3 linked regions of the Homo sapiens genome follow. The protein of the gene in region 3 purifies or fractionates together with the protein of the main gene of each other region. This does not show direct contact. Each region holds a gene or a part of one and is shown on either strand. Other genes may lie near its edges.

Region 1 (7,782 bases), on a different chromosome or scaffold from region 3:
AAACATTGCTGGAACCTACCTAACAAATCTCAAAAGCAAGACCTGAATTCAGGAATCAAGCTGTTTCTAAGTAACTGAAGTGTATCCCAGAACAAAACCCAAGAACATTAACAGAAATCCAAAATTAACGAGCACCCAAAAATGTAAAATTCACAATGGCTGGTTTTCCAATAAAAAATTACCAGTCATGCAAACTATAACCCATCATAAGGAGAAAAATCAGTTGAAACCACTACAGCTGACACCTATGTGAGAATTAGACAAGGACACTAAAAGAATTATTATAACTGTATTCCATATGTACTAAGTAGAGACTAGGAAGATATTTTTAAATACCCACTTTGAATTTTAGAGACGAAAACTAAAATGTCTGAGATGATGGGGTGGGTGGGGTAGGCAGAAAGAGGAGGATGGGAAGAAGTACCAAGGGGAAGGAGGAATGATTTGGGGATGACGGCTGTGTTTATTATCTTAATTGTGGTGATGGTTTCACAGGTATATGTAATTTCTAAACTTATCAAATTGTACACTTAAAATATGTGGTCTATGGAATGTTAATTATATCTCAATAAAGCTGTTAAAATTGTACTGAAACAAAACCATTGGGGGAAACTGGGTAAAGAGTCCAAAGGACCTCCCTATACTATCATTGTAACTTCCTGTCAATTATAACGATTCCAAAATAAAGAATTTAAAAGTGTTTTTAAAATTAAAAAAAAAAAGTCTGAGATGGAAAATCACTGAATGGAATTAACAACAGTTTAGACGTTGCAGAAAAAACAGTAGTGCACTTGAAGACATAACAATAGAAATTATCCAAAAAACACCAAGAGAAAGAATTTTAGAAATGAATACAAAGGGCTAGGCGCAGTGGCTCATGCCTGTAATCCCAACACTTTGGGAGGCTGAGGCGGGCGGATCACCTGAGGTCAGGAGTTCGAGACCACCCTGGCCAACATGGTGAAACCCTGTCTCTGCTAAAAATACAAAAATTAGCCTGGTGTGGTGGTGCATGCCTGTAATCCCAGCTACTCAGGAGGCTGAGGCAGGAGAATCGCTTGAGTACGGGAGACAGAGGTTGCAATGAGCCGAGATGGCACCACTGCACTCCAGCCTGGGCAAAAGAATGAGACTCCATCTCAAAAAAAAAAAAAAAAAGAAAAAAGAAAAGAATACAAAGTATACACAATGTGACCAGGTGGGTGGCTCATGCCTGTAATCTCAGCACTTTGGGAGGCCAAGGTGGGAGAATCAGTTGAGGCCAGGAGCTCCCGACCAGCCTGGGCAACATAGCAAGACTTCATCTCCACAAAAAAATTTTAAAATTAGCCAGGCATGGTGGCACGTGCCTATAGCCCCAACTACTTGGGACGCTGAGGCAGGAAGATCGCTTGAGCCCAAGAGTTGAAGGCTGCAGTGAGCTATGATCGCACAACTGCACTCCAGCCTGGGAAACCAAGCGAGACCGTATCTCAAAAAAAAAGAAAAAAAGTATACACAATATACAACAGGCAGAAAGTATGTCCTTTACAATGATTTAAAGTTATGAAAAAAATTTAAGCCAGGTGAGATAGTGCATGCCTACAGTCTTGGCTACTTAGGAGGCTGAAGTGAGAGGATGGCTTGAGTCCAGAAGTTCAAGGCTACAGTACGCTATCTATGATCACACCTGTGAATAGCCACTGCACTCTAGCCTGGGTGACATAGCAAGATCCTGCCTCTAAAAAAATAAAAATAAAAGTAAACTTAAATTTTAGGTATCAAGTGAAAACAGGCAAGAGGGTTTTTTTATTTTTTTATTTTGTGGGGGCGCATGAATAAAGGAATTTAAAGATGCTACTCTGGATCCCATCTTCCTTCTTCCTTGCTCCTGAGTATCCTTTCCCTCTGTTCTGCTGGCTCGTTCCTATCAGCACACATATCCACAGCTTTAAGGAAAGCTTCCTTTGACCCCCATAACCCATCTCCAGTTACTGCCCAGTTGCTCTGCTCTTTTTGCAACAGACGCCTGGAGTTCTGCCATCTCTGCTTCCTCATCTCCCACGTACTCTTCAACCCATGCCCATGTGACTGCCACTCCAAACGCTCCACCAGCATTCCTCTTGCTAGACTCATCATGACTTCTCTGTTGCTAAATTCATTGGATGCTTTTCGTTCTCATTCTGCTTGCCCTTTCAACTATTTTCAATAGTTCACCACTCCCTCCTTCAGCAGCTTGCCACTTCCTCCTTGGATTTTGGAACACCACCCTTTTTTGTTTTCTTCTCACCTCTCTGGCACTTCTTTATCAGGTTTCTTGGCAAGCACCTTATTACCATTGCAACTTTTAAATGCAGGTGTCCCTGTCCTTGGCCCAAAGGCTCTCTGCACACTTCTTCTCTTGAGCTCATCAAATATCAAGGTTTTATTTTATTTTTTATTTTATTTTGTTTGAGACAGAGTCTCGCTCTGTCACCCAGGCTGGAGTACAGTGGCACCATCTCGGCTCACTGCAACCTCCACCTCTGAGGTTCAAGTCATTCTCCTGCCTTAGCCTCCCAAGTAGCTGGGATTACAGGCATGCACCACCATGCCTGGCTAGTTTTTTGTATTTTTAGTAGAGATGGAGTTTCACCATGTTGGCCAGGCTGGTTTCGAATTTCTGGCCTTAAGTGATCCCACCTCAGCCTCCCAAAGTGCTGGGATTACAGGTGTGAGCCACTGTGCCTGGCCATTTTTTTGTATTTTTAGCAGAGACGGGGTTTCATCATGTTGGCCAGGCTGGTCTCGAACTCCTAAATATCAAGATTTTAAGTACATTCATATGTCAACAACTCCCAAGGGTGTATCTCCAATCCAGGCTCTCTTCTGGGCTCAGGGCCTGTATTTCCAATTGCCTACTTGACCACTCCACCGGAATGCCTCAAAGATATGTCGAGGTTTTCCACGTTCAAAACCCAACTCTCAATCTCCCCCAGCAGAAAATAGTGACTCTATCCACACAATTATTCAAGCCCAATTATTCGAAAAGAAAAAGGACTGGGCGTGGTGGCTCACGCCTGTAATCCCAGTACTTTGGGAGGCCGAAGCGAGCAGATCACCTGAGGTCAGGAGTTTGAGACCAGTCTGGCCAACATGGTGAAACCCCGTCTCTACTAAAAATATAAAAAATTAGCCAAGCGTGGTGGTGGCACTGTAGACCCAGCTACTCGGGAGACTGAGGCAGGAGAATCGCTTTAACTCAGGAGGCGGAGGTTGCAGTGAGCCGAGATCGTGCCACTGCACTCCAGCCTGGGCAACAGAGTGAGACTCCGTCTCCAAAAAAAAAAAGAAAGAAAAGAATATATATATAAAGTATATATAAATTGAGCCAGGTACAGTGGCTCATGCCTGTAATTCCAACACTTTGGGAGGCTGAAGTGGGAGGATCATTTGAGGCCAGGGGTTTAAGACCAGCCTGGGCATCATAGCAGGACCCCATCTCTACAAAAATTAGCTGGGTCTGGTGGCAGGCACCTTTAGTCTTAGCTACTCAGGAGGCCGAGGTGGGAGGATCTCCTGAGCCCAGGAGTTCAAGGTTGCAGTGAACTATGATTGCACTCCAGCCTGGGCAACAGAGTGAGACCCTGTCTCAAAAAATAATAATAAAATAAAATAAAATATAAATTGGATGACACTCTCCTGCTATAATACTTCAGTGGCTTTCCATTACTTTTAGATAAAATCTAATCTCTATACCTTGGCCTGTAAAATCTGTCTTTTGACTGCTTATTTCTCCAGCTTTATCTGTACCACTCTCTTCCTATCTTTCTGTGCCTATAGAAGAACCCATTTCTGCCTTGGGACTTTGCATTTTCCCCTTTCCCCAATGAAATTAACTCCCTCTCCTTCCTTAATCAAACATCATCTCAGAGAGGTCTTCCCTGAGCCCCCAATATAATCTAAGTTTCCCTGCTTTTCTATCTTATACGATTTTGTACTTTTTCTTCATAGTGTGTGTGTTTTGGTTTGATTTTTGAGATCACGCTCTGTCACCCAGGGTGAAGTGCAGTGGCGCGATCTCCGCTCACTGCAACCTCTGCCCCGCCCAGGGTCACATAATTCCCCCACCTCAGCCTCCAGGGTAGCTGGGACTACAGGAGCATGCCACGACACCTGGCTAATTTCTGTATTTTTTGTAGAGACGGGGTTGCACCATGTCGCCCAGGGTGGTCTCAAACTCCTGGACTCAAGCAATTCACCCGCCTCCACCTCCCAAAGTGCTATAATTACAGCTGTGAGCCACTGTGCCCAGCCTTCTTCACAATTTCACCACAATCCGTAAATATATATTTATTTATGTGATTATTTGTTCACTGTCTGTTTTCTAAGTTGTAAACTCCAGGAGGGCAGAGCCAAGGTCAATCTTGATATTTGCCCTCCCTCACTCCCTTCCACCCACTGAGAACACTGTTGGGTAATCAGCAGGTACTCAATAAATGCCAGATGAAATGAATGAGCTAGTGCATTTAGTAATGGAAGCTACCCTGTTTATTGGGAGTAGCTTTGAATCACTACTGAAAATCTGGATAAGTGCTATTAAAATTAGGACCTCAGGTAGGTGCCTCAGGTATCTCAGCCCATAGGTCCTTTTCTTCAAGCCTCACCTGCCACTCTCCACCTGTAACGTGTAGTTTTCATCCAAATAACCTGTGCTCCTGGCAATATCCCTAACAATCCCAAACTAAATAAAGAGGATTGTGACATGGACCCTAAATGTCGCCACGTTTGCGTCTCCATCCCGGAATATGACGCTGGTAGCTCATTAGCTCCATTCAAGCCTACAAATTGCATCACCCTCCTCCTCTGCCCAGACCTGGGGGCTCCAACACCTTTCGCTAGGTCTGGCTCTGGCCTCTGAGCGAACCTTCCGTACAGTATGGCGGCTCCCGAAGCCCCGCCCCTGGACAGAGTTTTCCGTACAACATGGCTGTCTACAGAGTGCGATTCCCACCCACTTCCGCCTAGCTACCGGAAGTTTCTATTTGAAACCCAGGCGGCCGACTTAGCCGGTGGCACGACAGTTGCTGCAGGGAATCTTTTAAACGAGAGCGAGAAGGACTGCGGGCAGGACCGGCGGGCTCCTGGGTTCGGCTCTCCCGGGGCGAGGGACTGGGCTGGATGGGAGGAAGGACGGAATGAGCTGGGAAAGGAGGATTTTCTCTTTTCCAACCCCGAGCCGGGGCCTGTCGGGTCGCGCTATCCCCGGGCCCTCCACTCTCTCGGGCCCAGTGGCCCAGCGCTGGGTAACATTCATCCTGTACCTTCCAGGGTTCAGCCGTGCCGCCTCGTTACGATGACCAGTGTGGTTAAGACAGTGTATAGCCTGCAGCCCCCCTCTGCGCTGAGCGGCGGCCAGCCGGCAGGTGAGGGTCCAAGCCACGCCCGGGGCACTGCGGCCTGGCCGGGGATGGTCTCGGGAGTGTGGAGATCGAATGGGTGGCGCGGGCACGGGGAAGGGCGTCCCGTCGGCCCTGAAAACCTGTGAGCCCCCTATAACCAGGCTATGTAGGTTTATGATGGGAGTTAAGGGAAGGACCATGTGGTAGGATTTTAGACGTGCTCTGCACTTTTCTGCCCGCATGTGTACTGTATTCATCAGTTAGATTCAAGTTGTTGGTTATTGTACAATGTTATTCCCATTAAGCTAGGAATCCCCTTCTAATCGGTTATCGTCTTATTTCCAGACTTGGGCTATCTTGAGGGATTGGGTTTGTTTTCAGGGAGGAAAGAGGAGAATCATTTGAGAAGTGGGATACTTAGGGTTCTTTGTTCACCTTTATATCTGCACCGTGTTTCTCATTACCACATTCTCAATACACGTTTGTTGAGTGAAGTGGGAGAGAGGGGTTAGACCTAGGCACAGTATTTGAGAAACTTGGGCGAAGAGAGAGACATGATTAAAAATAGTTTTTAATTGCTTTGCCATCTGCTTTGTGTTGCTTTGCTTGTGGTTGAAAGTCATCTCATGGGGTCTGCAGTCGGGGAACTGCCTAATCTAGAGATTATAGTACAGAGTAAGCTTCAGACATCAGAAAACTGTTGTGGGAGATTATGGAGTAGCTATTTATGATCCCTTCCCAGATGATTCCACTCAGCTGGTACATAAACCTTGGCAAGATGGAGCGCTGAAGTGGCCAGGCACGGTGGCTCACGCCTGTAATCCCAGCACTTTGGGAGGGCGAGGTGGGCAGATCACGAGGTCAGGAGATGGAGACCATCCTGGCTAACACGGTGAAGCACCGTCTCTACTAAAAAATACAAAAACTTAGCCGGGCGTGGTGGCGGGCGCCTGTAGTCCCAGCTACTTGGGAGGCTGAGGCAGGAGAATGGCGTGAACCCGGGAGGCGGAGCTTGCAGTGAGCCGATATTGCGCCACTGCACTCCAGCCTGGGCGACAGAGCGAGACTCCGTCTCAAAAAAAAAAAGATTGAGCTCTGAAGTAAATAGGCTTTTCTCCAAAGGCTTAATGGGTTGTTTGTTGTCTTGTGTTGCCGCAGAACACCTGAATGGTAATCCTGGCACCAGCGGGGACTAGGAGTTGCTGGAAGAACTGGAGCCAGGTCTCTCAGCTGCTGTGTCTTTCCCTTAGATGCGGTGCCCCTGAGTCAGTGGGCAGTGACTAGCTCTCTCAGCCAAGTTGGAAGTGTTCATCTCTTTGATTTCTATCTCTGTCCCAGCTTTATGATCATATGTAACTGGAACAGTTTCAAATTTTTAGGCTGCCTCCCAGGATTTTTGTTTTGATTTTGAGCGTGGGCTGGATAAGTAATATATGCACATGTGAAAAAAAAAAAGGTGGAAAACCATATACAATGATAAACAAGTTTCCTTCCCTTCCTTGACACCAGCCATCCAGTTCCTCTCCCAGTGTCTCCCATTTTTAAGAGACAGCTTTGTTAAATCCTACTGAATTTTTCCTACAGTGCAATCCTAGATTTTAGCAAATACAAATTATTGGAACCAATTCTAGTCAATGAAGAGTGTTAATTTTGATCAATTGACTGTTAACTCCATTTTACATGGAGTAGATTTGTTATTGTTTAAAACTTACTAATACTTGAGAGAGGAGAAGATGATATTCCTCCAAGATTACCTTTTTCTTCAGACAGACACCTCAGAAAGAACCCTTTTAATACTTCATTTGTACTGCATTTCTTCAATTTGATTTGATTGTAATGGCTCTTAAGTTAGGTCAAACTTAAAGGGGCCATTTTACAGTGAACAAAGTGAGAGTAAGTCCAGAAAAGCCTGCATGTGAGGGTGGGGGTGCTTAACTCCAGATAAGTTACTTGAATTTGCTGTAGAACACAAATGATAGATTGTGTGGTTGCGGGGCTGGCACAAGGATAGAGGAAAATGCTCTCCTTTGGGGAAGAAGAGTGTTATGGCAGGGCCATTTCTCTGGTTATCTGGCAAGAAGATCAGATTAGAATGCCTAATAGGGAAACTCTAAACTTAACAAAGGGTAAACAAAAGGGCTAGTGGTAGAGGCAGGCAGCATGGAAGAGGAAGGGACCAGACAGGTGGTTTAGAGATGGTCTGTGAAACAACCCATGGAACTGTGAAGTGTTTCATTTATTCAACAAGCAGTTATTGAACCCCTGTTCATATGCCAGATACTTTCCTAGGTGATGGGGACACAAAGATGCCTTAGAATGGTTAGGAAGACATTCTAGTAAAAACAACGAAGTAACGGTTTAAAAAAACTCAGAGCAGCTCAGTCATGCCTTAGGAGAGTGTGCAGAGTGCTTGGAGGAGCTT
Region 2 (7,208 bases), on a different chromosome or scaffold from region 3:
AATGGACCCTCTCATCAAGATAAAATGAAAATATCTTAATCTGGCATTCAAGTTTCTCCAAGATTAGGGTTGCCAGATAAAATAAATAATGCCCATTTAATTCTGAATTTCAGACAGAAAACATTTTTAGTATGTTATTAAATATTGCATGAGACAAATTTATAAAAAATTCATTATTTGTCTGAAATTCAGATTTAACTGGGTGTCCTGTATTTTTATTTGCTAAATCTGTTAACCCTCTTCGTGATCTTCTCCAGCCAGCCTCTCCACCTTTTCTTCCACACATTTGAAGCTCTGTCCACAAGGAAGGGTCCAATTGCCTTGTCTTTGCTCATGCTGTTCCCTCTGCCTGGGTCACCATTCTCCCACTGTATCTTCTTGGTAAACTCTTCTTTCCCTTTAAACCCCTGTCCAGATGTTACGTTCTCAGGGAAACCTCTAGCAGAGCACATTAGCCCCAGTTCAGGGTGCTCACCAAACCTGGTTCTTATAGGATTTTGCCTTATAATTCTGTGTTTTAGAACTGGTCTCTACAAAAACAGACAAGACTGATTGCCTAAAAAGGAAAGGTTATAAGGAATTCTCTCATTCTTCCTGCCCTCTCCCTTGCCCCTATCCCACTCAACTCCTTTTTCTTTCTTTTTTTTTTTTTTTTTTTTGAGAGACAAGGTCTTGCTCTGTCACCCAGGATGCAGTGGCACAATCCTGGCTCACTGCAACCTCTGCCTCCTGGGCTCAAGTGATTCTCCAGCCTCAGCCTCCTGAGTAGCCGAGACTACAGGCACGTGCCACCACATCTGGCTAAATTTTTTTTCTATTTTTTTGTAGAGACAGGGTCTCACTATGTTGCCCAGGCTGGTCTCGAACTCCTGGGCTCAAGGGATCCGCCTTGGTCTCCCAAAGCTCTGGGATTACAGACATGAGCCACCGTGCCCAGCTGCCAACTCCTTACAATATTAATATAAGACACACAGCACTTTTCTGTGCCAGGCACTGTGCCAAGTGCTTTGCATACAGCATTTCATGTAAACCCTCCATAACCTTATGAGGTAGATTTGGTTGAATCTCCACTTTGCAGGTGAGAAAATCAGGCATGTAGAGGTGAAGTTCATTGCCACTGTTTCCACATCTGTAAAATAAGACTCATATCAACATTTTCTCCATGAGGTTTTCACCCAAACTAGAATGTAGGTTTCCAGAAGGCAGGAGCTTTGTTTTATAAACTTCCATATCCTCAGAGCCCAGAATTGTGCCTAGCATTGAGTAGGCTCTCAGTAAATACTTGTTGAATGAATGAATGAATGAATGAGTCATGTTACAGATAAGGAAAGTGTAATTTAGGGACAGAGAAAGTAACTTACCCAAGGACCCATGGCTAGATATGGTGGAACTTCCACTAGAACCAGAATCAGGGTGTGTTGGGTAGATGTTTAACAACTGGCTCGGCTGGGTGCAGTGGCTCATGCCTGTAATCCCAGCACTTTGTGAGGCCAAGGCGGGGGGATTGCTTGAGCTCATGAGTTTGAGACCAGCCTGGGCAGCATGGTGAAACTCTATTTCTACAACAACAGCAACAACAACAACAACAACAAAATAAGCCAGGCATGGTGGCGCACGCCTGTAGTCCTAGCTATTTGGGAGGCTGAGGTGGGCTTCAGCCCGGGAGGGGGAGGTTGCAGTGAGCTGAGATCCCGCCACTGCACTCCAGCCTGGGTGATAGAGCCCGAGCTTGTCTCAAAAGCAAACAAAGAAACAAAAAAACCCTACAAGTAGCTCTCTGGAAAAACAACAACATTAACAACCCTGATTTGTAGCATTTGCTGATTTACATTGTACAAATACTCCTAGCATGGCTGATTTCAAGCTATCAACCTGGTGTCAATCAGCTTGCAAGTTTCCTACAAATTTAACCATGGGCTTTTGTAGACCTGTCTGTGCAAGCTGGCATCAACATACCATGAACTAGAACACAGGGGTCTGGGTCCAAAGGGTACACCCTCACCATTACTCTCTCCTGTCTTCCCAAACAAGGCACAGTCTATATTCTATTTTTTTTTTTTTTTTTTGAGACGTAGTCTTGCTCTGTCGCCAGGCTGGAGTGCAGTGGTGCCATCTTGGCTCACTACAATCTCCACCTCCCTGGTTCAAGCGATTCCCCTGCCTCAGCCTCCCAAGTAGCTGGGACTACAGGCACGTGCCACCACACCTGGCTAATTTTTTGTATTTTAGTAGAGATGGGTTTTCACCATGTGGGCCAGGAAGATCTCAATCTCCTGACCTCGTGATCTGCCCTCCTCGGCCTCCCAAAGTGCTGGGATTACAGGCGTGAGCTACCACACCCGGCCGGGCACAGTCCATATTCTTATATAAGTAGGAGGGGGAAAGACACCCAAATAGACTGAATTCAATGCAGATTGCATAGGTGATCCTTTAAAAACATAAGCCCAGTCACAAAACTACCTTGCTTAAAACTTTCCTTATGCCGTTAGCATAAAATCCAATCTCTCTCTCTTTTTTTTTTTTTTTTTTTTGAGACAGAGTCTTGCTCTGTCACCCAGGCTGGAGTGCAGTGGTGGAATCTCAGCTCACTACAGCCTCTGCCTCCTGGGTTCAAGCGATTCTCCTGCTTCAGCCTCCCAAGTAGAGGCATGTGCCACCATGCCCAGCTAATTTTTGTAATTTTTAGTAGAGACGAGGTTTCACCATGGTGGTCAGGCTGGTCTCAAACTCCTGACTTCAAGTGATCTGCCCGCCTTGGCCTCCTAAAGTGCTGAGCTTACAGGCGTGAGCCACCACGCCCGGCCACGCCTAGCCAAAATCTAATCTCTTTACCATGGCACACAAGGCCCATTATGAAACCTCTCCCTCTACCAGGCACTGTACTAGGCTTGGGGGATACAGTGGTGAACATGACACACACATGTCCTGCTTGCATAGAGCTTGCAATCCAGTAAATGAGGCTGTCAAGAAACAAATAGTCAACCATTAAGCACAAAATTACAGAATGAGATATATACGTAGTGGAGCAGGTACTTGGAAAAAGAATAATGAGGAGAGAGGTTGATTACCTGGACCAGGGTGAGTTGAAGAAGCCCTTGTAAGAAAGTGACATTTGAGACCCGAAAGATGAGAGAATTGGATGAGGTATGGTGCTGATGGCCAGGCAGAAGGGGAGAGGATTTGTCATTCTGAGGAATAAGAATAATTTCTGTATAATTGGAGCCAGTGCAGATGGGATGGGGACCAAAATTATAAATATGAAGGGCATATAAATATAATATAATACATAAATATAATTATAAATATAAAGGACAGGGGCTTATGGAAGGAGGTTTAATTTCCTTTGAAGATGGAGCCTTAAGTCCCAGGTGCATTCTGATCTTGTTTAAGATCAGATGCACTCTGAATGATTCTCTTCCAATTATGGGCAACTTTCTCCTCCAGAAACCTTTTTATATCACCTGGGTAGCAAGGGGATCATCTAGTGACCGTTAGACTTCGCATAGATGAGCAGACACAAGCCTAGAGAGGGACATGTGATCACCAATAGTTTCTCAGCCAGTAATAGTTGTACAGCCTTGGAACAAGTCACTTTTTGAGCCAGCACTATCTGATAGAAATTAATGGGAACCACAAATGAGAGCCACATGTGTAATTTAAAACTTTCTACTAACCACATTTAAGAAGTAAAGAGAAACAGGTAAAATTCATTTTATAATATATGAATTTGACCCAGTATATCCAAAATATCATTTCAACCTGTAATCAATGTAAGTCTTAGAAATCTGGTGTGTATTTTATTTACACTTATGGCACATCTCACTTCGGAGTAGCCATATCTCAAGCGCTCGGTAGCCATATGTGGCTAGTGAGTAAAGTATTGGATGGTGCAGTTGGGAGCGTCAGTTTCCTTTTCTGTGAAATGAGGATAAATCACTGGAAGCTCGTGAGAGCGCACACGAAACACCCGGCACTCCGCCCTGGACACTAGGGACGCGCAATCAAGTTTGGTTTCTTCTGGTCCCTGCTCTCCCCTCCCGCCCCTCCTCTAAGTCTCCGCCCCCTTTCCCCGCCCCCTCAGGCTCCAGGCGGAAGCAACCCTGTTCCAAATGCAGCGCGCTTTACGGCGGCGCGTCCTTTTACCGCGGTGTGGCCGGCTCGCTTGTCGCTCGCACTTTTGCCCTATTGGCTCTGCGGCTCCGCTCGCCGCACTTTACGGCAGTGTGGCTGGAGCCGCGGCTGACGGGCCCGCGGTCTGGGCGTGAGTGCAGGGAAGTGGAGTATTTGCTGGGCCGGGTACCATGGACGTGGGCGAACTTCTGAGCTACCAGGTATGAGGGGCAGGGAGGGCCGAGCGACCGCGTTCTCACCTGGGCAGGGGTCGCAGGAGCCAGAGCCCTTTCATCTCACCTCCTCTCGCCTCACTCCCGGGCCCTCTAACTTCTCATGCCACCCGGGGTCTCAGCCCCTCGTTTTACTTTGCTCTCCGAAGCCCTCCTGGGCCCTTTCGATTCATCCCTTCTCAAGACCTGAGCCCTTCACCTCCTCTTCCTCACCCTGGGGCCTGGTTCCCTGAAACTCCTCTGAAACCCCAGACTATCCTTTTTTTCACAACCATGTCCTCTCAGCTCTCATGTCCCCCCAGTCATTGAGGTGATGGTGGTGGCGGCGGTGGGAGTGCACTGGTCTCACTTGGATTTGATCTCCAGCTTCTCCACTGACTGGCTATGTGGCTTTTGGACAAGTCATTCCCCCCCTCTTTGAACCAAGTTTTTGTATCTATATAGTGGAGACACTAATAACTGCCTTAGTAGGGTTGTTTGAGGACTGTACCAACTGATATGTATGAAAGCTGGTTTTAAAGTGTGGAAAGCTGTGCTTGTGTTTACTGCGATTTGCAGGAGATGTTGGGAATTCTAGCATGGAATGAGTTTCTAGGAATCTTGCTCAGGGTCCCCCTTGCCTAGGAAACTTGTGGGGAAACTGTATGGGACCTAGAGAGCAGAAAGGGCTTGTCCAAAGTCACTCAGAAACAAGGAGCTGGAATTTGAGCTCAGGCGTACTGACTTCCACCCCAAAGTTTTTCCCCCACTTTGATTCCATAGGAGGGTCATTGCGAGGAGCAGTAGAGCTGCACTGCCGAATGTCGTAGCCACTAGCCACATAGGCTGTTGATTGCTTGAAATGTGACTAGTCTGAATTGAGAAATACTGTAAGTATAAAGACACATTTGGGTTGGAGACTAGTATGGAAAAAGTGAAATTTTTATATTGATTACATGATCGTACTGATTATATCAATTACATTGGTTATTGGTCATATTGATTAAATGATCATATTTTGGATAATGGGTGAAATAAAATATACTTAATTAATTTTTAAAATTTTATTTTATTGTTATTTAGAGACAGGATCTTGCTCTGTCGCCCATGCTGGAGTGCAGTGGCACAATCATTGCTCACAGTAGCCTTAAACTCCTAGGTCTAAGGTATCCTCCCAAGTAGCTAGGACTGCAGGCAGGCATCACTATGCTTGGCTGATTTTTAAATTTTTTGTAGAGACAGGGTCTTGCTATGTTGCCCAAGATGGTCTCAAACTCCTAGCCTCAAGCAGTCTTCCCACTTGGCCTCCCAAAGTGCTGGGATTACAGGTATGAGCCACCACACACCACACTCAGCCAATAAAATATGTTTAAAACCAATTTTAACTGCCCCTCTTGACATTTTAATGTGTTTACTAGAAAATTTAAAACAACATATATAGTTCAGCTTATATTTTTGTTAGACAGCCCTGCAGTCAAGAATAGGTGATTAAGAGCCATGAGTCTGGACCCCTAGGTTGCTGGCAGTCTCTGTTTTGCTACTAACTGGCTGCTGTAACCTTGAACAAAATACTTAATTTCTCTCTGCCTTGGTTTCTTCATCTGTAAATGGGGGACAGTGACGGTAGCTGCCTCACAGGGCTGTTGTGAAGCTGTTGAGAAATGGAAAGTCCTTAGACAATGCTTGCCAAAGAGTAAACATTCAGTAAATATTAGCAGTTATTTTCATACCACTCCCTCAGCCAAAGTACAAGAAATTGACCCTGGACGCTTAAGACATCATGGGAAAGAACAGTTCAGCAATGGGGAGCTATATAGCCAAGAGATTTTTCTTTTAAAGACAGTTTAATTGATAGTGAAAGATGAAGGGAAATAGGCAAGTTATTAAATCAGTGATTGTATGCCGGCTTGGAATTTCTAGAATGGCTAGCCCATTAAAGCTAGAAGAGTTTCATTCATTTGCTCAACAAATATATATTGAACACCTACTGTGTGCAAGGCAGTCTATCCACTGGGTATACAACACTGAATAAAAGACAAGATTCTTGCTTTTGTGGAGCATCTGGTGGGAAGTTACAAGATAATAAGTAAACAATGCATTCAGTTTGTGGTAAGTGCTGGGAAGGGAATATAGCAGAGTATGCTATAAAATTGCACTGCTTTGTATAGTAGCCACTAGGCACATGTGATTATTGAATACTTAAAATGTGACTAGTTTCGAATTTAGATCTGCTACATGTGCAAAATACACACTGGATTTCAAAGATTTAGTATGAAAATAATGTACAATATCTTTTTTTTTTTTTTTTTTTTTTTTTGAGATGGAGTTTCACTCTTGTTGCCCAGGCTGGAGTGCAATGGTGAGATCTCAGCTGACTGCAACCTCTGCCTCTTGGGTTCAAGCGATTCTCCTGCCTCAGCCTCCTGAGTAGCTGGGATTACGGGCATGCGCCACCACGCCTGGCTAATTTTTGTATTTTTAGTAGAGATGGGGTTTCTCCATGTTGGTCAGGCTGGTCTTGACTCCCAACCTCAGGTGATCTGCCAGCCTTGGCCTCCCAAAGTGCTGTGATTACAGGCGTGAGCCACTGCCCCTGGCCACGTGAAAATAATGTACAGTACCTTAACTTTTATGCTGATTACATGTTGAATAAATGATAACACTTACGATATATTGGATTAAAGAAAATATATTATTAAAATTAATGTTGCTTTTTAAAAAACTTTTAAAATGTGGCTACTAGAAAATGTAAAGTGGGCCGGGTGTGGTAGCTCATGCCTGTAATCCCAGCACTTTGGAAGGCTGAGGCGGGTGGGTCACCTGAGGTTGGGAGTTTGAGACCAGCCTGACCAACATGAAGAAACCATGTCTCTACTAAAAATATAA
Region 3 (7,172 bases):
GAGCAGCTCATCGACATCAAAGGTGCCTATTGGCTGCCTTAGTCTAGGGCCATCTTAGCTCAGAGCCTGAGAGGATGGGAGGTGGTGCCAGTGCACTGGAGGAAGAGATGGTGGGCTGTTTATGGCTAAAAGGAAAAGATGTGATGGCGGGGGAGGCCCCTGGGTTATGTTCTTCATACCTGCTTTCCCTTTCGGCAGTTGCTCACCCAATCCGGCCCAAGCCTCCCTCAGCCACCAGCATCCCGGCCATTCTGAAAGCTTTGCAGGATGAGTGGGTGAGTTCCTGCAAGAGAATCAGCATCTTCCCCACTTGAAGAGAATGCATTGCTGGGTTAGGACTTGGGGGTAGGAAGGATGGAGCATTATTTAGAGGGTAAACTTTGTGACATCAGGGATTTGTTTTATTCTTCGTTGTATCCCCAGCACTGAGAGCAGCACCTGGTACATAGTAGGTGCTCTAGAGTTATGAATTGAATGATTGAATACATCCTGCAGGACTGTCTGGCACAGTGCCTGACACAACGAGGGCGATCAATAAATAGCAGCAGCAGCAGTGTTGTTATTCTCTTTTAGAGAGGGGACGGCATGACAGCTGGGATTTGCCAGTAAGTTAGGGAAGGTGGGGATGGGAAAGAGCTGGCTCCCACTCCTGTCTGTGTGCCCAGTGGTTCGCTTGGGGTAGGAGCTCAAGAGTGTCTGCCGGCACATTCGTGTTTGCTCGGATATTGTTTGGGTCACTGATACTGGTCTAGGCTCTGGGATAGGAGGCAGCATCCCCTCCCCAAGGGCTGACTCCACTGGGTACTCCCTGCACCCCCCACCTCACCTTACAATGATATTTGCTTCTCCCAGGATGCAGTCATGCTGCACAGCTTCACTCTGCGCCAGCAGCTGCAGACAACCCGCCAAGAGCTGTCACACGCTCTGTACCAGCACGATGCCGCCTGCCGTGTCATTGCCCGTCTCACCAAGGAAGTCACTGCTGCCCGAGAAGGTGCAGCCTCTCCCCTGCCATCCCCCACCCTGGGCTGGTTCTGCATTGTAATATCCCATTTCTAACATCGTCTTTTCTCTCAGCTCTGGCTACCCTGAAACCACAGGCTGGCCTCATTGTGCCCCAGGCTGTGCCAAGTTCCCAACCAAGTGTTGTGGTAAGTGTCCCCCTTCCCTTACCAGCAGCCCATTTGTGTACAGTGGCCCACAGAACTGTCCTTATGCAGGTGTCTTTGGTGCTCTGTGCCTCTCACCCTCACCTTTCTTCTCTTCAGGGTGCGGGTGAGCCAATGGATTTGGGTGAGCTGGTGGGAATGACCCCAGAGATTATTCAGAAGGTAAGTCCTGCTCTCACCTGGTGGGAGTGCTGATGGGCCCTTACTTTTCACCATCTGTCTGGAGTCCATCGTGACTAAAATCACTGTGCTTTTGGGAGTTGAGTGGTGCAGAGCATGGACCCTGGGACCAGATTGCCTGGGTTTGTATTTTGATGCCACTACTTGTAAGCTTTATGACCTTGGCTTACTTAGCCAACCCTTACGTGTCTCATTTCCCTAGCTTCTAAACTGAGAATATGATCATATCCACTGTATAGGCAGGCTGTGGGAATTTAAAAGATTTCATTACTGATAAGTGCACCTTTTAGCTCTTATTGTTATTGAGATTCTTTGCAGATAGTAAACTACTTTTATATATTTTCTTGTTTTTTTTCTATGAGGGCAATAGGATAGGAATTATAATCCTTATTTTGCAGATGAAAGACACATCTGAGAGGCAGAGCTGGGCTTCCTGATTGCAAGTCCAGTGGGATTCTCATTTGCAGGGCTTCTTAGTGTCTTTCTGAGCAGTTCAAATTGTCAGCATGTGTCTGAGCCCTTGGCTTAGTGGCGTGTAGACCTATGGGAGCTCTACAGTCCTAGCTTCTATTCTTGCTCTGCTGTTTATCACCTCTGCGACCTTGGGCAATTGACTTCACTTCTCTGAGGCTCAGTTTCCTCAGCTGTAAAATAAGGTCATCAACACCCCCCTCATAAAGCTGGGATGGAAGTAAGAAGAGAGAATGCCTTTAAGCCTGTAACGTAGAAGTTGGCAGATAGCAAGTTCTTGGTGCTGCTTTTGAAAGCACAGGTGTGACCAGCATCTAATGTACTTTTCTCCTTGCAAGATGATTTGTCTCACATTGAGCCTGTTCTTCCCCAGCTTCAAGACAAAGCCACTGTGCTAACCACGGAGCGCAAGAAGGTGAGTTCTCTTTCTGAAGCCTGGAGAAAGAGCTGGCCTGGTGGGAGGCGGTTGACTCCTTAGGAGAGAGAGGGCGGCTGAATCTTGGATTCATTGCTGCTCTTCTTTGGGGGCTTTTCATTTTCTCAGAGAGGGAAGACTGTGCCTGAGGAGCTGGTGAAGCCAGAAGAGCTCAGCAAATACCGGCAGGTGGCATCCCACGTGGTGAGTGTCTGGGTCTCCACTGTCTTGGAGACAGCCCTCCCGTTTTGTTTCTGGGGTGGGCGGGCCAGCATGGGGAGTGCTGAGTGCAGAGCTGTCCCAGGTTCCTGGCGCTGTTCCTGGTGCTGTTTCTCGCCTGGGCTGCTGAGTTGTCAGGGCTCCTCTTTCTGCCCAGCTGTGGGTTTCCTAGTGATGCAGTGAGGGAGTTACCGTACCAGGCAGATAGCCAAGAGGTATGGATAAGGAATAGAAGTAACTCTTGCTCCCCTGAGAACATGGGTGACTGGAGATGGCAGTAGGGGAGGTCTGTGGCTTTGTGGCCTGCTGTGATTTGGCCGTGACAGGGTTTGGTGTGTCTCTCTGCAAAGGGGTTGCACAGTGCCAGCATTCCTGGGATCCTGGCCCTGGACCTCTGCCCGTCCGACACCAACAAGATCCTCACTGGTGAGAGTCTGGGCCTAGCCCGGCAGGCCAAAGTGGGGAGGGGCAGCAGGGAAGGCGCATGCTCCTTGTCCTCTTCATGGGCATGGGAACAAAAGCATTTCCTTGAGCAAAAGGGCCTGGGTGGGCCTGACTCATTGTTTGGTCTTTTTGGGTCTTCTCCAGGTGGGGCGGATAAAAATGTCGTTGTGTTTGACAAAAGTTCTGAACAAATCCTGGCTACCCTCAAAGGCCATACCAAGAAGGTCACCAGCGTGGTGTTTCACCCTTCCCAGGTAAGGGGTTCTCCTCGCCACCCTTGGTTCTTCTTTCCTTGGCTGTTGTTTGTCCCTCACCCCGCTGCTGTCTCTGTGAAGTGGGGCTGGGAAAGAGCTCTGACTCTGACTCCTGAGTGGGCACTTGGAGGGGCTCACTTTGGAGTTGTGGAGATTGCCCTTCACTCTGCGTGAGACCTTCTAAAGCAGTGATCTTCCAGCCAGGGAGAGAACGGAAATGTGTAGTTTGACAAGCATATTCATTGAAATATTTCATATTAGGGAAAGAAAAAATCTTATAGTGTTCCTAATATAAACTACAGAAAACAAAGCTCAACACAATCTCAACTCACACTTACGAGGAGGACAGATATATCTGCTTTCCCATGATCCTCCAAGATGGGTAAAAATCATGTTGACTGTTGAAAGTGGTGTAGGTTGTAAACAGAACCTCTGGTTTACAGGGTAAAGGTAACTCATGGGACCAGATTAATGATATTATGGGATTCGAATTTTAAGCCTAAGACAGTTTGGGTTTGGGGCTGCAGGACATGGTTGGTTTAGTGCTTCGCAGTCAAGATTTCCCTTGGACCTTAGGGAAATGAGAAATATAAGAATAACATGGTGAATTTTTCATGACTAAATTTGTTCAAATTGAGAGCACTGTTTTCTTGCTTATGGGGTATTAATAGTTAGGTCTCATGAAATTGTATTGATAAAAAAAGATGGTAGTTATTTTTACCTTATGGCTTTTAATATCCTAACTAAACAAAAAATTGGTGAGTGACGCGAAATTCTCTCCCTGCCCCAAATCTTTTGGAAAATTAACTTACCCTGGAAATCCATAAAAGTGGAATGCACTGAAATACAGCCATGCAGCCCCTTCCAGTCCCAGTACTGCTCAGACCTGTGCCATACAGTACAGTAGCAGTTAGCTGCATGTGGCTATTTAAATTTCAATGAAATAGAATAAAAAATTCAGTCCCTCAATTGTACTAGCTACATTTTTCCTTTGGTCCTGGAAATGGGAAAATTGCTCTCTGTTGCAGTTAGCCTTTTTACCACTAGATGGCGAGGACGCCTCCACAAGCCCTGATGCTGTATGAGTTAGCACTTTAATAGCGTTTACCATTGGCTGTCTTGGGCACCATTGGGTGGATAGGTGGTTCCAGGGAGGGCAGAGCTGAAAGGAGAAGCAATTGTTGGCAGTTGTGGGCATCCCCAGCCCCGTTTTATAAGATTGTTTTGGTCTGTATCTCTTTTCTGACTCTGATATTCTGTCTTTGTTTTCCTTGTAGGACCTGGTGTTTTCTGCTTCCCCCGATGCCACTATCAGGATTTGGTCGGTCCCCAATGCCTCTTGTGTACAGGTGGTTCGGGCCCATGAGAGTGCTGTGACAGGCCTCAGCCTTCATGCCACTGGCGACTATCTCCTGAGCTCCTCCGATGATCAGGTGCGGTCCCAGCCAGTGCCCTGGAGAGGCCTGCTGGTCCCCAAGCTTGAACATCCTGGGTGGCAGGAACATCTTCCCACCCCAGCTGGTTCCCCAGAACCTCAAAGGAGAATGTTTGCCAGGGTTTGCCAAACCAGGGGCTCTGTCTTGCTGAAGGGCCACCAGAACCTGGGACCCACTTTCTCACTGACTCCATTGTCTCTTTTTTTTTCCCCAGTACTGGGCTTTCTCTGACATCCAGACAGGGCGTGTGCTCACCAAGGTGACAGATGAGACCTCCGGCTGCTGTAAGTTGCCTCATAGGCACTCAGCTTTTTTGTTTGCTGTTTATTATTTATTTTTACATTTTATTTAGTCATTTGTTTATTTGTTCTAAAGATATATTTACCATGAGCACCTGTCTAGTGCGGGCTTTGTGCTGGGTTCACTGAGGAATGTGAAGAACAAGGAACCTACCTTTGCTGCTCTTAGTCTCTCTCCCTGGTGGGCTCTGACCACAGGTCTCTCTTCCCTCCTCCACAGCTCTCACCTGTGCACAGTTCCACCCTGACGGACTCATCTTTGGAACAGGAACCATGGACTCTCAGATCAAGATCTGGGACTTGAAGGTAGGACATGGTAGGCCTCCATCTGAGGCCCAGGGCCAGAGGGAGTGTTTGTGACAATGCAGTGCTAATTAGGTGCTTGTGGCACCTGGCCCTGAAGGTGGAGAGACACTGGCTGTGCGTGTGTGATATGATGGTGTGGTCTGGGGGGTCCCGCTGGCTGTCCTTCCTGGAAGGACGTGAGGGACATCTCAGGTAGGAGTTTGGTGAGCCCCATTTTCTTCCTCTCATGATCTGTGGGTGACGTATTTTACTACCCACCGCCACTGTAGGAACGTACTAATGTGGCCAACTTCCCTGGCCACTCGGGCCCCATCACTAGCATCGCCTTCTCTGAGAATGGTTACTACCTGGCTACAGCGGCTGATGACTCCTCTGTCAAGCTCTGGGATCTGCGCAAGCTTAAGAACTTTAAGACTTTGCAGCTGGATAACAACTTTGAGGTGTGCCCTTCCCCCTCCGCCCAGCTTTCCATTGTGTCTCCTTGTTTGTCAATTATTTATTGAATTAATCTAATTGCTTCTGCTTATCCGCAACTGCCCCATAGTTTCTGTTCCCCTTGTGTGACCTTCTCTCTTTCTATTTCTGGCAGGTAAAGTCACTGATCTTTGACCAGAGTGGTACCTACCTGGCTCTTGGGGGCACGGATGTCCAGATCTACATCTGCAAACAATGGACGGAGATTCTTCACTTTACAGGTAGAGGCTGGTCCTGGGCTCCTGGGATCTCTCTAGGTGCCCAGGCCCGGAGGGAAGCCTCACTGGGTTAGGAATTTCTAGGGCTTGCATGAATTTACCTAAGCAGCTTTCTGTTACCACCTGAGGCAGAGCTTTATGACTAAGGAAGCAACTGAGTCAGACTGCATGGCAGTAGATGCTAGTGCTTGTTCTGCCACTTCCATGCCCTGTGGCATTGGGCAGGTTACTAAAGGGAGAGAAAAGTCCCTCTGAAGTTTTGATAACTGAATCTAAAATAAATGAACATTAGACAGTGACAGGAGGAGAGCCATTTTAATTACGTGCATATGCACGGGAGGCCCACATTATATTAGATCTGCAGAAGGGTCAGATGATTGAAGCTTATACAGTTTATATATCACTTAATAATGGGGATATGTTCTGAGAAATGTCTTGTTAGGTGATATCGTCATGTGCGACCATTGTAGAGTGAACTTACATATATCTAAATGGTGTAGCCTACTACACGCCAAGACTATTGCTATAACCTTAGTATAGTCTATTATTGCTCCTAGGCTACAAACCGGTACAGCATATTAAATGTAGTGAATACAATTATAACACAATGGTAAGTATTTGTGTATCTAAACAAGTGTAAACATAGAAAAGGTTCAGTAAAAATAAGGTATAAGAGATTTTTTTAAAATGGTACACTGGTATAGTGCTTGCCATGAAAGGAGCTTGCAGGACTGGAAGTTGCTTTCAGTGAGTGAGTTGTGAGTGAATGTGAAGGCCTAGGACATTACTGTACGCTGCTGTAGACTTTATAAACACAGTACACTTAGGTTTTACTAAATTCATAAAAAACTTTTTCTTCAGTAATAAGCCTTAGCTGACTTTTACTTTATAAACTTAAAAAAATGGATTCTTTTGTAATAACATTTAACTTAAAACTAAAACACATTGTACAGCTGTACAAAAATATTGTCTCTCTTTACATCCTTGTTCTATAAGCTTTTTTCTAATTTTTTTATTTTTATTTTTTACTTTTTAAACTTTTCTTGTTAAAAACTAAGACACAAGCACACATTACCCTAGGCCTACACAGGATCAGGATCACCAACTGTATTAGTCCGTTCTCACACTGCTATGAAGAACTGCCTGGGTAATTGATAAGGGAAAGAGGTTTAATTGACTCACAGTGACTCGGGAGGCCTCAGGAAACTTACAGTCATAGCAGCAGGGAAAGCAAACATGTCTTTCTTTACATGGCAACAGGAGAGACAAATGCTGAGCAAAGGGGCT

The links.
Region 1: the proteins of PRPF19 (region 3) and KNSTRN purify together in Homo sapiens (affinity purification with mass spectrometry; 5 studies listed by BioGRID and IntAct, with this or other methods). This does not show direct contact.
Region 2: the proteins of PRPF19 (region 3) and CTNNBL1 purify together in Homo sapiens (affinity purification with mass spectrometry; 5 studies listed by BioGRID and IntAct, with this or other methods). This does not show direct contact.

Annotation. Positions count from the first base shown.
Region 1 is NC_000015.10:40,377,939-40,385,720, forward strand, and holds the start of KNSTRN (small kinetochore-associated protein), read left to right. Parts: upstream 1-4,782; 5' UTR 4,783-4,897; coding exon 4,898-5,106; intron 5,107-5,289; coding exon 5,290-5,384; intron 5,385-7,782. UniProt on the Homo sapiens protein: Essential component of the mitotic spindle required for faithful chromosome segregation and progression into anaphase.
Region 2 is NC_000020.11:37,689,822-37,697,029, forward strand, and holds the start of CTNNBL1 (beta-catenin-like protein 1), read left to right. Parts: upstream 1-4,208; 5' UTR 4,209-4,301; coding exon 4,302-4,331; intron 4,332-5,105; exon of another isoform or gene 5,106-5,212; intron 5,213-7,208. UniProt on the Homo sapiens protein: Component of the PRP19-CDC5L complex that forms an integral part of the spliceosome and is required for activating pre-mRNA splicing.
Region 3 is NC_000011.10:60,896,562-60,903,733, reverse strand, and holds part of PRPF19 (pre-mRNA-processing factor 19), read left to right. Parts: coding exon 1-22; intron 23-198; coding exon 199-275; intron 276-852; coding exon 853-994; intron 995-1,077; coding exon 1,078-1,151; intron 1,152-1,268; coding exon 1,269-1,331; intron 1,332-2,193; coding exon 2,194-2,235; intron 2,236-2,364; coding exon 2,365-2,439; intron 2,440-2,804; coding exon 2,805-2,880; intron 2,881-3,042; coding exon 3,043-3,152; intron 3,153-4,429; coding exon 4,430-4,585; intron 4,586-4,802; coding exon 4,803-4,872; intron 4,873-5,107; coding exon 5,108-5,193; intron 5,194-5,462; coding exon 5,463-5,633; intron 5,634-5,782; coding exon 5,783-5,888; intron 5,889-7,172. UniProt on the Homo sapiens protein: Ubiquitin-protein ligase which is a core component of several complexes mainly involved pre-mRNA splicing and DNA repair. Required for pre-mRNA splicing as component of the spliceosome.